2 linked regions of the Homo sapiens genome follow. The protein of the gene in region 1 interacts with the protein of each later gene in a biochemical or structural test. Each region holds a gene or a part of one and is shown on either strand. Other genes may lie near its edges.

The links.
Region 2: the proteins of STMN3 (region 1) and TRPC5 form a complex in vitro, tested with the Homo sapiens proteins (one study listed by BioGRID).

Annotation. Positions count from the first base shown.
Region 1 is NC_000020.11:63,639,210-63,643,458, reverse strand, and holds the end of STMN3 (stathmin-3), read left to right. Parts: intron 1-1,159; coding exon 1,160-1,351; intron 1,352-2,061; coding exon 2,062-2,121; 3' UTR 2,122-3,747; downstream 3,748-4,249. UniProt on the Homo sapiens protein: Exhibits microtubule-destabilizing activity, which is antagonized by STAT3.
Region 2 is NC_000023.11:111,771,777-111,778,812, reverse strand, and holds part of TRPC5 (short transient receptor potential channel 5), read left to right. Parts: exon of another isoform or gene 1-158; intron 159-1,810; coding exon 1,811-2,500; 3' UTR 2,501-7,036. UniProt on the Homo sapiens protein: Forms a receptor-activated non-selective calcium permeant cation channel. Mediates calcium-dependent phosphatidylserine externalization and apoptosis in neurons via its association with PLSCR1.

The sequences.
Region 1 (4,249 bases):
AAATACAAAATTAGCCAGGTGTGGTGGTGCACACCTGTAATCCCACCTACTAGGGAGTCTGAGGCAGGGGAATTGCTTGAACCCAAGAAGTGGAGGATGCAGTGAGCCGAGACTGCGCCACTGCACTCCTCAGCCCGGGCGACAGGGTGAGACTCCATTTCAAAAAACAAACAAGAACAAAAAAAGAAAGGGATGGAGAGGAGGAAGGGTTCCGAGGCGGCCACCTGGAAGGAGCAGGAGCCTCTGGTGAGGGTGGGAGGCACCCTTGTCAGGGCCAGCAGGATGCTAGGGGGTGGTCCCCAGATGGGCCCTGGGGACGTCGGGTGGGGCATCCCTCTCCCAGACAGGGAAGCTGGAGGAAGGGCCTCATGTGTGAAGACCCTGAGGCTTGCTGGAGGGCGGAGGGGCCCTGGGAGAGGTGGGTGTGGGCTCCAGGTCCCCTCCCTGCAGCCTCCCCTCCCACCAGCCCCTCTGAGACTGAAACAGAGATAAAAATGTCCTTTTGGGGGTGCCACCCTGGAGGCCAACGCATTGGGCAGGGGAAGCGGCTCCGTTCCCTTCCCGGTGAGGCCAGAGACCAGGGTTCACAGGGCTGACTAGTAGGGACTGGCATGTGGGTGCGGGTCCTGCTGCCCCGCTCTCCTCCCAGGGGTCACCAGCCGGCCCCTCCCCCAGCATCCCTGGGGACCCTCCGCTCCTGGGCACCTAATTGGGAGCTGGGAACCCGGTGTGTAACAAGCAGCTACTCTGCTCAGTGGGCGGATGTCCGAGGAAGAGACAAAGCTCAGAGACCGCCCACAAGTTTAGGGTTTCTTGCTGCTGGTCCTTGGAGGGGCAGACGCGCAGGGCAGGGTGTGCAGTGGCGGCAGGGTATGGCGGGGGCCCTGGGCGCAGCCAGGACCGCGGGACCCGCGCGCGAGGCAGGGACGGGGGCGGGGGCGGCGGATCGCGACCCCCTGGCCCTGCCCCGACCACAGGCCGGATGGCAGGCGAGGGTTCCCAGGGCAGCGCCCGGGGGTCCCGGCGCCCACCGAGGCCTGGGCAGGTGGAGGCGCCAGGTGAGGCGAGCGGGCGCTGGGCGGGAGGCGGAGAGCAGGGAGGAGTCCGGCCGGGCAGGGCCCGGGGTTGCCGCTCACGCGCGCCCGCCGGCCCCGCACAGACGCAGGAGGCGCAGGTGCTGAAGCAGCTGGCGGAGCGGCGCGAGCACGAGCGCGAGGTGCTGCACAAGGCGCTGGAGGAGAATAACAACTTCAGCCGCCAGGCGGAGGAGAAGCTCAACTACAAGATGGAGCTCAGCAAGGAGATCCGCGAGGCACACCTGGCCGCACTGCGCGAGCGGCTGCGCGAGAAGGTGCGGGGGCGGGGCCGGGGCGGAGCTCGGAGCGGGCAGGGGCCGGGGCGGGGCCGGGGCGAAGCTCGGAGCGGGCAGGGGCCGGGGCGGGGGCAGGGCTAGCAGCAGTCAGGGGGCGGGGCACTGGGCGGGGGCGGGGCCAGGGCGGAGCTCGGAGCGGGCAGGGGCCGGGGCGGGGCCGGGGCGGAGCTCGGAGCGGGCAGGGGCCGGGGCGGGGGCAGGGCTAGCAGCAGGCAGGGGGCGGGGCACTGGGCGGGGGCGGGGCTAGGGCGGAGCTCGGAGGGGCGCAGAGCGGGGCCGGGGACTCCGAGGCGCTGAGCTGGGGTGGGGGTCGGGGGCTCCTCCCGTGTTTACTGGGCGTCCCCAGCAGCGCACGAGGCAGGTCCAGAGTCTGGTCCTGGCGGGACAGTAACTAGCCGCAGTAATAGATGGCTAAATTCATTATATTGAAAGTGCCCTGAAGGAAGCTCGGCTCCGGTACGAGCTAGAAGCGGGGCCCAGCCAGCTCCCAGGAAACCCGTCCTTGGTCCCTGGCCTTGCTCTGCGCCTCCCCGGTGCTCCCGCCCCCTCAACTCAGTCAGGGTCCTGCCGAAGGCCAGCCCGGATGAGGCCGGGCGGGTGCCAGGGCGCCACGGCCTGCGCGCCTGGGGGTTCCCGGAGTCGCCCCAAGCCACCCCCGCCCTCAGGCCCTCCCGCCCCCTGTCCTGCAGGAGCTGCACGCGGCCGAGGTGCGCAGGAACAAGGAGCAGCGAGAAGAGATGTCGGGCTAAGGGCCCGGGACGGGCGGCGCCCATCCTGCGACAGAACACGTTCGGGTTTTGGTTTTGTTTCGTTCACCTCTGTCTAGATGCAACTTTTGTTCCTCCTCCCCCACCCCCGCCCCCAGCTTCATGCTTCTCTTCCGCACTCAGCCGCCCTGCCCTGTCCTCGTGGTGAGTCGCTGACCACGGCTTCCCCTGCAGGAGCCGCCGGGCGTGAGACGCGGTCCCTCGGTGCAGACACCAGGCCGGGCGCGGCTGGGTCCCCCGGGGGCCCTGTGAGAGAGGTGGCGGTGACCGTGGTAAACCCAGGGCGGTGGCGTGGGATCACGGGTCCTTACGCTGGGCTGTCTGGTCAGCACGTGCAGGTCAGGGCAGGTCCTCTGAGCCGGCGCCCCTGGCCAGCAGGCGAGGCTACAGTACCTGCTGTCTTTCCAGGGGGAAGGGGCTCCCCATGAGGGAGGGGCGACGGGGGAGGGGGGTGATGGTGCCTGGGAGCCTGCGTGTGCAGCCGGTGCTTGTTGAACTGGCAGGCGGGTGGGTGGGGGCTGCAGCTTTCCTTAATGTGGTTGCACAGGGGTCCTCTGAGACCACCTGGCGTGAGGTGGACACCCTGGGCCTTCCTGGAAGCCTGCAGTTGGGGGCCTGCCCTGAGTCTGCTGGGGAGTGGGCATTCTCTGCCAGGGACCCATGAGCAGGCTGCATGGTCTAGAGGTTGTGGGCAGCATGGACAGTCCCCCACTCAGAAGTGCAAGAGTTCCAAAGAGCCTCTGGCCCAGGCCCCTCCCCACCAGGGCTTTGCAGATGTCCTTGAAAGACCCACCCTAGAGCCCTTTGGAGTGCTGGCCCCTCCTGTGCCCTCTGCCCTGGTGGAAGCGGCAGCCACAAGTCCTCCTCAGGGAGCCCCAAGGGGGATTTTGTGGGACCGCTGCCCACAGATCCAGGTGTTGGAAGGGCAGCGGGTAAGGTTCCCAAGCCAGCCCCAACACCCTTCCCACTTGGCACCCAGAGGGGGCTGTGGGTGGAGGCCTGACTCCAGGCCTCTCCTGCCCACACCCTCTGGGCTGAGTTCCTTCTTTCCCTTGGACGCCCAGTGCTGGCCTTGGAGGACGGTCAGCTGGAGGATGGCGGTGGGGGAGGCTGTCTTTGTACCACTGCAGCATCCCCCACTTCTCCACGGAAGCCCCATCCCAAAGCTGCTGCCTGGCCCCTTGCTGTAAAGTGTGAAGGGGGCGGCTGAGTTCTCTTAGGACCCAGAGCCAGGGCCCTCAACTTCCATCCTGCGGGAGGCCTTGGCCGGGCACTGCCAGTGTCTTCCAGAGTCACACCCAGGGACCACGGGAGGATCCTGACCCCTGCAGGGCTCAGGGGTCAGCAGGGACCCACTGCCCCATCTCCCTCTCCCCACCAAGACAGCCCCAGAAGGAGCAGCCAGCTGGGATGGGAACCCAAGGCTGTCCACATCTGGCTTTTGTGGGACTCAGAAAGGGAAGCAGAACTGAGGGCTGGGATATTCCTCATGGTGGCAGCGCTCATAGCGAAAGCCTACTGTAATATGCACCCATCTCATCCACGTAGTAAAGTGAACTTAAAAATTCAATCAAATGAACAATTAAATAAACACCTGTGTGTTTAAGACATGGTTGAACTGTCTGTGTGTGTCCTGCACCTGTGGGGTCGGGGGCAGCTGCGGGCTCCCTGTCTGGGAGTGAAGATCTGCTCTGTGTGTATCTCCAGACTGAAGCTGGTTATAAATCTTATTTTATCATCATGATTATGAATTGTTCTATTGACAACAGTGATTTTAAGATATGAGCATGTAAACTACACACAAGCCCACTTTCCTCTCTGGAATCCAAGGGGTGAGGTGTCAGGGTGGGGGGTGGCAGGGCCCGCTGCTGTGGGTGGGGCTGGCGGGGGCTCCCCTGCCCTCCCTCAGGGCGGAGCCCTCCTCAGGGGCTTCCTGTTGTTCAGGACTCTGTGGCCCGCCGCTCAGGAGGAAAGGGCAGGGCCTACATATGTATGCATCTGAGGCTGGAGCCTCTAGGCTGTGGGACTTCCTGACATGGGGGCAGGTGCTACGAGACCCCTGGGGCTGCACCCCACTGTTCTGTGGACTCACCCCACTCACCCCATTCAC
Region 2 (7,036 bases), on another chromosome or scaffold:
CAATGTATGTCACACCACAATCAGTGTCAGGAATGAAGGAAATCTGCTGTATGCATTCTTTTAATATTCTGAGTGTTTCTCAGTGTGGAAATTGAATGCTTTAAATGATGTGGCAAGGATGCATGGTGGTGAGGGACAAGATAACAAAGGGAAGATGCCTGCAGACTTAATTATCTTCTTTACTTAAAAGATATAAGATCAAAAAATCTGTTATTAAATCTAAGGTCTTAAGAAACTCTACCATTAAACATTAAAATTATACTAGTGGCATTAGCCTAAAACAACCGTTTTCAACCAGGGGCAATTTTGTCCCCAAGACCACATTTGGCAATGTCTGGAGATATTTTTGGTTGTCACACTGGTATCTAGACAGTAAAGACAAGGTTGCTACTAAGCATCCTACAATGAATAGTACAGTCTCCCACAACAAGAATTATCCAGTCCAACATGTCAATAGTGCCAAGATTGAGAAATCCTATCCTAGAACACATCTATATATATATTTTTTAATTTTTTTATTATACTTTAAGTTCTGGGATACATGTGCAGAACATGCAAGTTTGTTACATAGGTATACATGTGCCGTGGTGGTTTGCTGCACCCATCAACCCATCATCTACATTAGGTATTTCTCCTAATGCTATCCCTCCCCTAACCCCCACCACCTGACAGGCCCCTGTGTGTGATGTTCCCCTCCCAGTGTCCATGAACACATCTATATTTTCTAAGGCACACAGAAAGTCCATTATCCTAATTCATAGACATAATTCATCTACTGAGGGTCTGCTATGTTCCAAGCACTCTGCTAAGTGCTCTGGTACAGTGGTGAGCAAGATCTAACCAGCTCCTACTCTCAAGGAGTGACAAACAATAATAAAGGGTGATGAACAATTTTATATTCTGACAGGTTAAACACAGGACACTGTGGAAACACAGAGAGGAGGGACGCTCATCTGGGACTTGGGGAGTCAAGACAGACTTTCCAATGGAAGTGATGCTTAAGCTGAGGCTTGAAAGCAAAGCCAGCCAGATAAGGGCGAGTTGGGGAGAAGAATGTTCTAGACAGAGAGAACAGCATAGGCAAAGGCCCAGAGGCAAGGGAGAATATGTCCATACAGGTGGACAGCAGAGAGCCTAGGAAAAGAGTAGAAAGATGAAACTGGAGAAAGCAACATGTACTAGGCCTTGAAAAACCTTGTAGTCCATGGTATGGCATTTCTACTTTTTCCTAAAGTCAGTGACAAGTTAGTAACAAGTTTTGAGAAGGGGAAGTACATGAACAGATTTCAGCTTGGCTTTTAAAGGAACAATCTAGTATGTAAGCAGCCAGTTGGAGATAGAAGACATTTCATAGAGGTTTGAACAGGGCCCCCTGTCTCAAAACAGCAGTCTCATCACCTGACATTCAACTTTTCTAGTTTCACTCGTTAGAGTCTTAAAAGCTTTTTCCTCTTCAGTAGTCCTTTTATATGCAGACACCTGAGAGCCAGTGTCCTAATCTAATAACTTGTTAGTTAATACTTAGCAGGAGTTAGTCCTTATGAAAGCACCTCAACAGACTAATCCCTGCTAAAGTGTTAGCTAATCCTGAATCAACTTTACCCATTGTACAATTTTGCCAATGGCCAGCCCAGCCCTGCCCATGGAATTATTAATATGTTTTTCTTGTGTTTGAATAATGGCAGATTTTTCTGGTGTTTTGTGATTTGCTACTAGGCAAAAACCTGGAACATACCAAAGGTATCTAATGTGCCTACTTTGAAATAAAGACCAAGCTTCTTGACATAATATGTCTCCTCTCTTTTCCCAGGAATTAAAGCAAGACATCTCCAGCTTTCGGTATGAAGTGCTTGACCTCTTGGGAAATAGAAAACATCCAAGGAGCTTTTCCACTAGCAGCACTGAACTGTCTCAGAGAGACGATAATAATGATGGCAGTGGTGGGGCTCGGGCCAAATCCAAGAGTGTCTCTTTTAATTTAGGCTGCAAGAAAAAGACTTGCCATGGGCCACCTCTCATCAGAACCATGCCAAGGTCCAGTGGTGCCCAAGGAAAGTCAAAAGCTGAGTCATCAAGCAAACGCTCCTTCATGGGTCCTTCTCTCAAGAAACTGGGTCTCCTATTCTCCAAATTTAATGGTCATATGTCTGAACCCAGTTCAGAGCCAATGTACACAATTTCTGATGGAATTGTTCAGCAGCACTGTATGTGGCAGGACATCAGATATTCTCAGATGGAGAAAGGGAAAGCAGAGGCCTGTTCTCAAAGTGAAATTAACCTCAGTGAGGTAGAATTAGGTGAAGTCCAGGGCGCTGCTCAGAGCAGTGAATGCCCTCTAGCCTGTTCCAGCTCTCTTCACTGTGCATCCAGCATCTGCTCCTCAAATTCTAAACTTTTAGACTCCTCAGAGGATGTATTTGAAACTTGGGGAGAGGCTTGTGACTTGCTCATGCACAAATGGGGTGATGGACAGGAAGAACAAGTTACAACTCGCCTCTAAGTCAAGCCCTAATCATCTGTTCTGGAACTCAACAGAAATCTGTAATTTCCTTGCTCTCAGAGGTGACACAGAATATGATTCCCTCACTGCCCCTGCCCCCCAGAAAGGAGAGTGAAACTCTTATTTGCACCATCTTTTATAGCCACATTCTCCATTTTTGTTCTTGTTTTATTATTACTTTCATTATTATTTGCCTTTTTAATACCTATACACACTAAGTCCATCTTACAACCGACTGAAGGGGTGTTGCACCTAATCATCAGAGGTGCAGTTGGGTGCTTAACCTTTTTGCTTTGCTTTTCTCACCCATGCTTCCTTGAAGCCCCAGGTGCCACTTTGCTGGTCTTGTTGCCGCACAGATTCCTGACCATCCTCAGAATCTCATGCCATTTTCCCGCAGAGCTGAGGGATGTGGTCAGCAGTCCCCACCAGCTATCAGATAAGGCAAACTACCCTGCCCATCTTTGTTGCCATTCAGTGCTACGCGCTGCCCATGCTGGGTCAATGAACAGCATCAAAGGGAGGCTGAAGAGATTTCAAAGAATTGTCAGCTTGTGGTTTCTGGGTATAAGTGGCTTGTTTCGTTCTTAAATACTACAACTTCTTATTGTGGGGGCTATTGAGTTTTCTTGTTTCTTAAAGATGTGTTAGTTTCCTAATGTGTGCCAATGAAATATTTACCCCATAGTATATGTCATATCTAATAAGTTAGGCGAATTATTTTTCTGTTTGTGTGTTTCAGTTAACTTACTACATTTGAAAATTTGATAGTATCAAAATTAGTATTTAGAATTTGTGCTATTTTTTAAAAACATCTACTACACTCTAACCAATAGTCACTACATCTCATACATTGGCAAGATAAATAGTTGTCATATTTGTTGGGTCCTATTCTACTGTTGATAGTTTTAATTATCATTGCTATCAAATAATTTCTAAGATAAAAGCCTGAATTTGAAATATTTTTATCAGAAAAATGGCATATTGCTGAAGTGTCAAAATATGAGAAAAGAGCATCTTCATTTTAATTAACTGCTTTATAAAAATGGCAACTTTAGGTATAGATAACCTAATTCAGGTTGCAGTTTTAATATTCATTGGGGGCAGTGGAATTGCATGTGTAAATTATGTTAGATATATATCATAACAACCCTAGTGGATTCATGGAATTATAAACGTGATCCAAATTCTACTGTCTTCCAAGAAAGCTACATTTATACATCCAAACAAATTCTTTTCCACAGCTTAAGAGTACCTCATCAGAATACAGTGGTTCAAGTTAAAAAATAAAGTCCATAATGCATATGGTCATCATTCTAGACCTGATAACCACTGAGAACCTGCTGAGCAAGGACGGCTTTTACCAACATTAGCACAAAGGTTTCCTCAGTTTAGACTCTAACATATGACCTGAAACAACTCTAGGTCTGAGTCCTAGAGATTACATAAATAGTGTGTAGCCCAGAAAAGTAAAATAGGTGTCACGCTGTTTTTTTTAATGTCAACACCAATAGGAATCCATTTAGATTAATGTATGTAATTTCTGATAAAAGTAAGAGAAATGAGGAACTTTCGAACTGCAAATATGCCTCCAAACTAGCTTTTGATAAGTGTGGTTTCTGTTATTTGAATGGATTCCCATCTTTGTCTCTAGCCTGGAGAAGAGCAAAATGGAGGGGGAGGGGCCAGAAATAGGAGGAGGTTTTGAAGAATAAAGCCTCATATCCAGGAAAAAGTGATCAAGTGAAAAAGCTGCATCAAGACCCATTTGGCAAGAGGTTGTCCGAAAATAATTCCTTGATCATATCTGAAGTGGTTATTTACTCAAATCAATTTCTCCCCTGCTTCGCTAAGACTGTCATAAAATGGCCTTGACATTTAATCACAGGTTACTTTCCAGAAAGGTTTCTAAAGTTACAGATTCAGCTTTTCAAATTGTCAAATTCACTTTGAATAATAATAGAACCTGGGCTACATTCCTAACTCATATTAACAGCACCAAAAGAAATAGCATATAACCCCATTTTATAAAAAGAAAAACATGTTTTTCTCAGAAATGTATATCACTTCTGAAAACTTATAAGTTTTCTAGCAGTGACCTTATCAACTTGTCAGAAAACAGGCTAGCCAGACATGGAACTGTATTCCAAAAGTCTTCTGTCACTTACGTTCTAAAGAGATAATATGTGTAAATCAATCTCTACTATTGAAAGAACCAGTGTCATATGTCACGGGAGTACATTCCTTTTCAGATCTTCTCAGGGTTATCGTTGTGACTTGGGCTTAAGACTTTACTAGCTATAGTGAAGCCTCATTTAGGATGGGGGTTAAAGCTGAACAGCTATTGCCCTAACTTCCATGTTGGTGACACCAACATTTTTATTAACTCTAATTCAGTACAAAGTAGGAAAGGAAAAAGATTTTGTTCACTTCCTTACTCTCTTGATCAAGTATCATAAAAGGTATTTCAAGTGAAAATGCTTAGGTATATCCTCTGACCCCAGAGGAGTTATAAGCCAACTTGAGAGTAAATTTATAAACATAAAAAGAACTAAAAGAGAACTTTATAAAGGATCTACTCTATTCCAACCTCATATTTTACAAATAGAAAATAAAGAGGCCCAGAGAAGGACAATGACTTGCTCAAGGTCACAGAGCTGGTCAATAAACTCAAGTCTTCTAGATTATAGAAGACATTTATTAGTAAGCATATATGTTATATATAGATGTGAAGTGGCCACTACAGACACCCTTTTGTTCATTTGCCAAAAATGCTGTGAACTCCAAAACTTCAGACTTACATATTTAAATGTGAAGTTAAAAATGTACTGCAAAGTCAAACACAAATAATACAAAAATCATTTACTACTTATCTAAAATATCCATATCATGTTCCACCTACATTACAGTTGGCTTATCACTTCCGGACACCTTGGATTCATTTATTTGATCTCATAAAATCTCCCTAATAATAAAGGTAAAAATTACAAAGAAAATATTTGAATTATATTAGAAAGTGACCATTGTTGAAATATCTCCACTTCCAGCTTTATGTCCAGTGAAATACAGAGGAAAGACTAAATTTAAAATCATTTTCGGAAAATGCCAAACTTTACAGAGATATAAATGCTTCAAGTTACGCTTCTGTCTACTGACATGGAGATATTAAAAAATTCCCTGTTCTGCCTCCATCATTTTTCATTCCACTGTGACCTAACTTAGGCTATTTCAGCTAAGTCGTAAATACCTGTCTGCAATTTGATTAAATCATTTTTAAAAAACGAACGCCTCCACTTTTCAAATGACTTAATACCTTTTCCAAAAAGAACTTTATAGTTCTTATGGCAGTGCAAACCTCATCTGAAAACCTCAGTGGGAACTTTAGAGATAAATATGAGGCCAAACCTTAGCCTGAAAATACAAATGACCATTGGCATTCATGTTACATCATGGGTGAATCTCGTGTGGTGTTTTGACTAATAGTTTTAGTGCCCCAGACCTTGGTTTGTTAAATCATCAGGTAAAAAGTACTTGAAGATAGGCAGCAAATCCTTTGTTTAAAAGTACCTTAGAAAAATTGAGGCTGGGCATGGTGGCCCACTCCTGTAATCCCAGCACTTTGGGAGGCCAAAATGGGTGGTTCACTTGAGTCCAGGAGTTTGAGATCAGCCTGGCCAACATGGTGAAACCCATCTCTACTAAAAATACAAAAATTAGCTGGGCATGGTGGTACACGCCTGTAGTCCAACTACTTGAGAGGCTGAGGCATGAGAATCACTTGAACCTGGGAGGCAGAGGTTGCAGTGCACTGAGATCACACCACTGCACTCAAGCCTGGGCGGCAGAGCGAGACTGTCTCAAAAATAAATAAATAAAGGTACCTAAGAAAAATTGAGTATATTTTCTTGGTAATCAAGTTTTCAAAAGATTGCTCATATAGACATAGTCAATGCAAATTGATCCAAGTGTTCAGATCATTTAAATAACCTCTTCATACCTACTTCACAGCCCTACCTTCAATCCCTGCAGCTTTGCCTCAAAACTAAGGATATTTTAGATTGTTTCTTTGGCTTACTTTATCTAGATAATTGCTCCAAATATCCACCTTGTTGGTGTAGGACTCGGCAGTGGGATCTGAGTACCCCAAATGAATGTGAGCTTTACTTCAGCAGAGAGAAACATTGTTACCATTATATTTCCAATGAACCTTCCAGTAACTTTTTTTCCAACAGATGTGGGTTTTGGCTTGCTTTGCCTTTTGAGGGATGTCTGTAAAAGTGAGAACGTGTCTGTGTATATACATAGACACACATAACAAAACTTAACAGCATTTGATGGTTCTGCCCTTGGCCCTTTATCCCTTTAGGTAATTACTAGATCATTTTGAAGAGAGGGAAGCAAGAATAACTTTTCAATGAGACATTTCCTGAGCTGTGAGGAATTGCCAAAATGAACTGCCATGACAGCATCTTCTGTAGCACTTTTATATTGAGAGCTATCAAGATTTGAGGTTCCTGGTTTTGTTTAAAAAAAAAA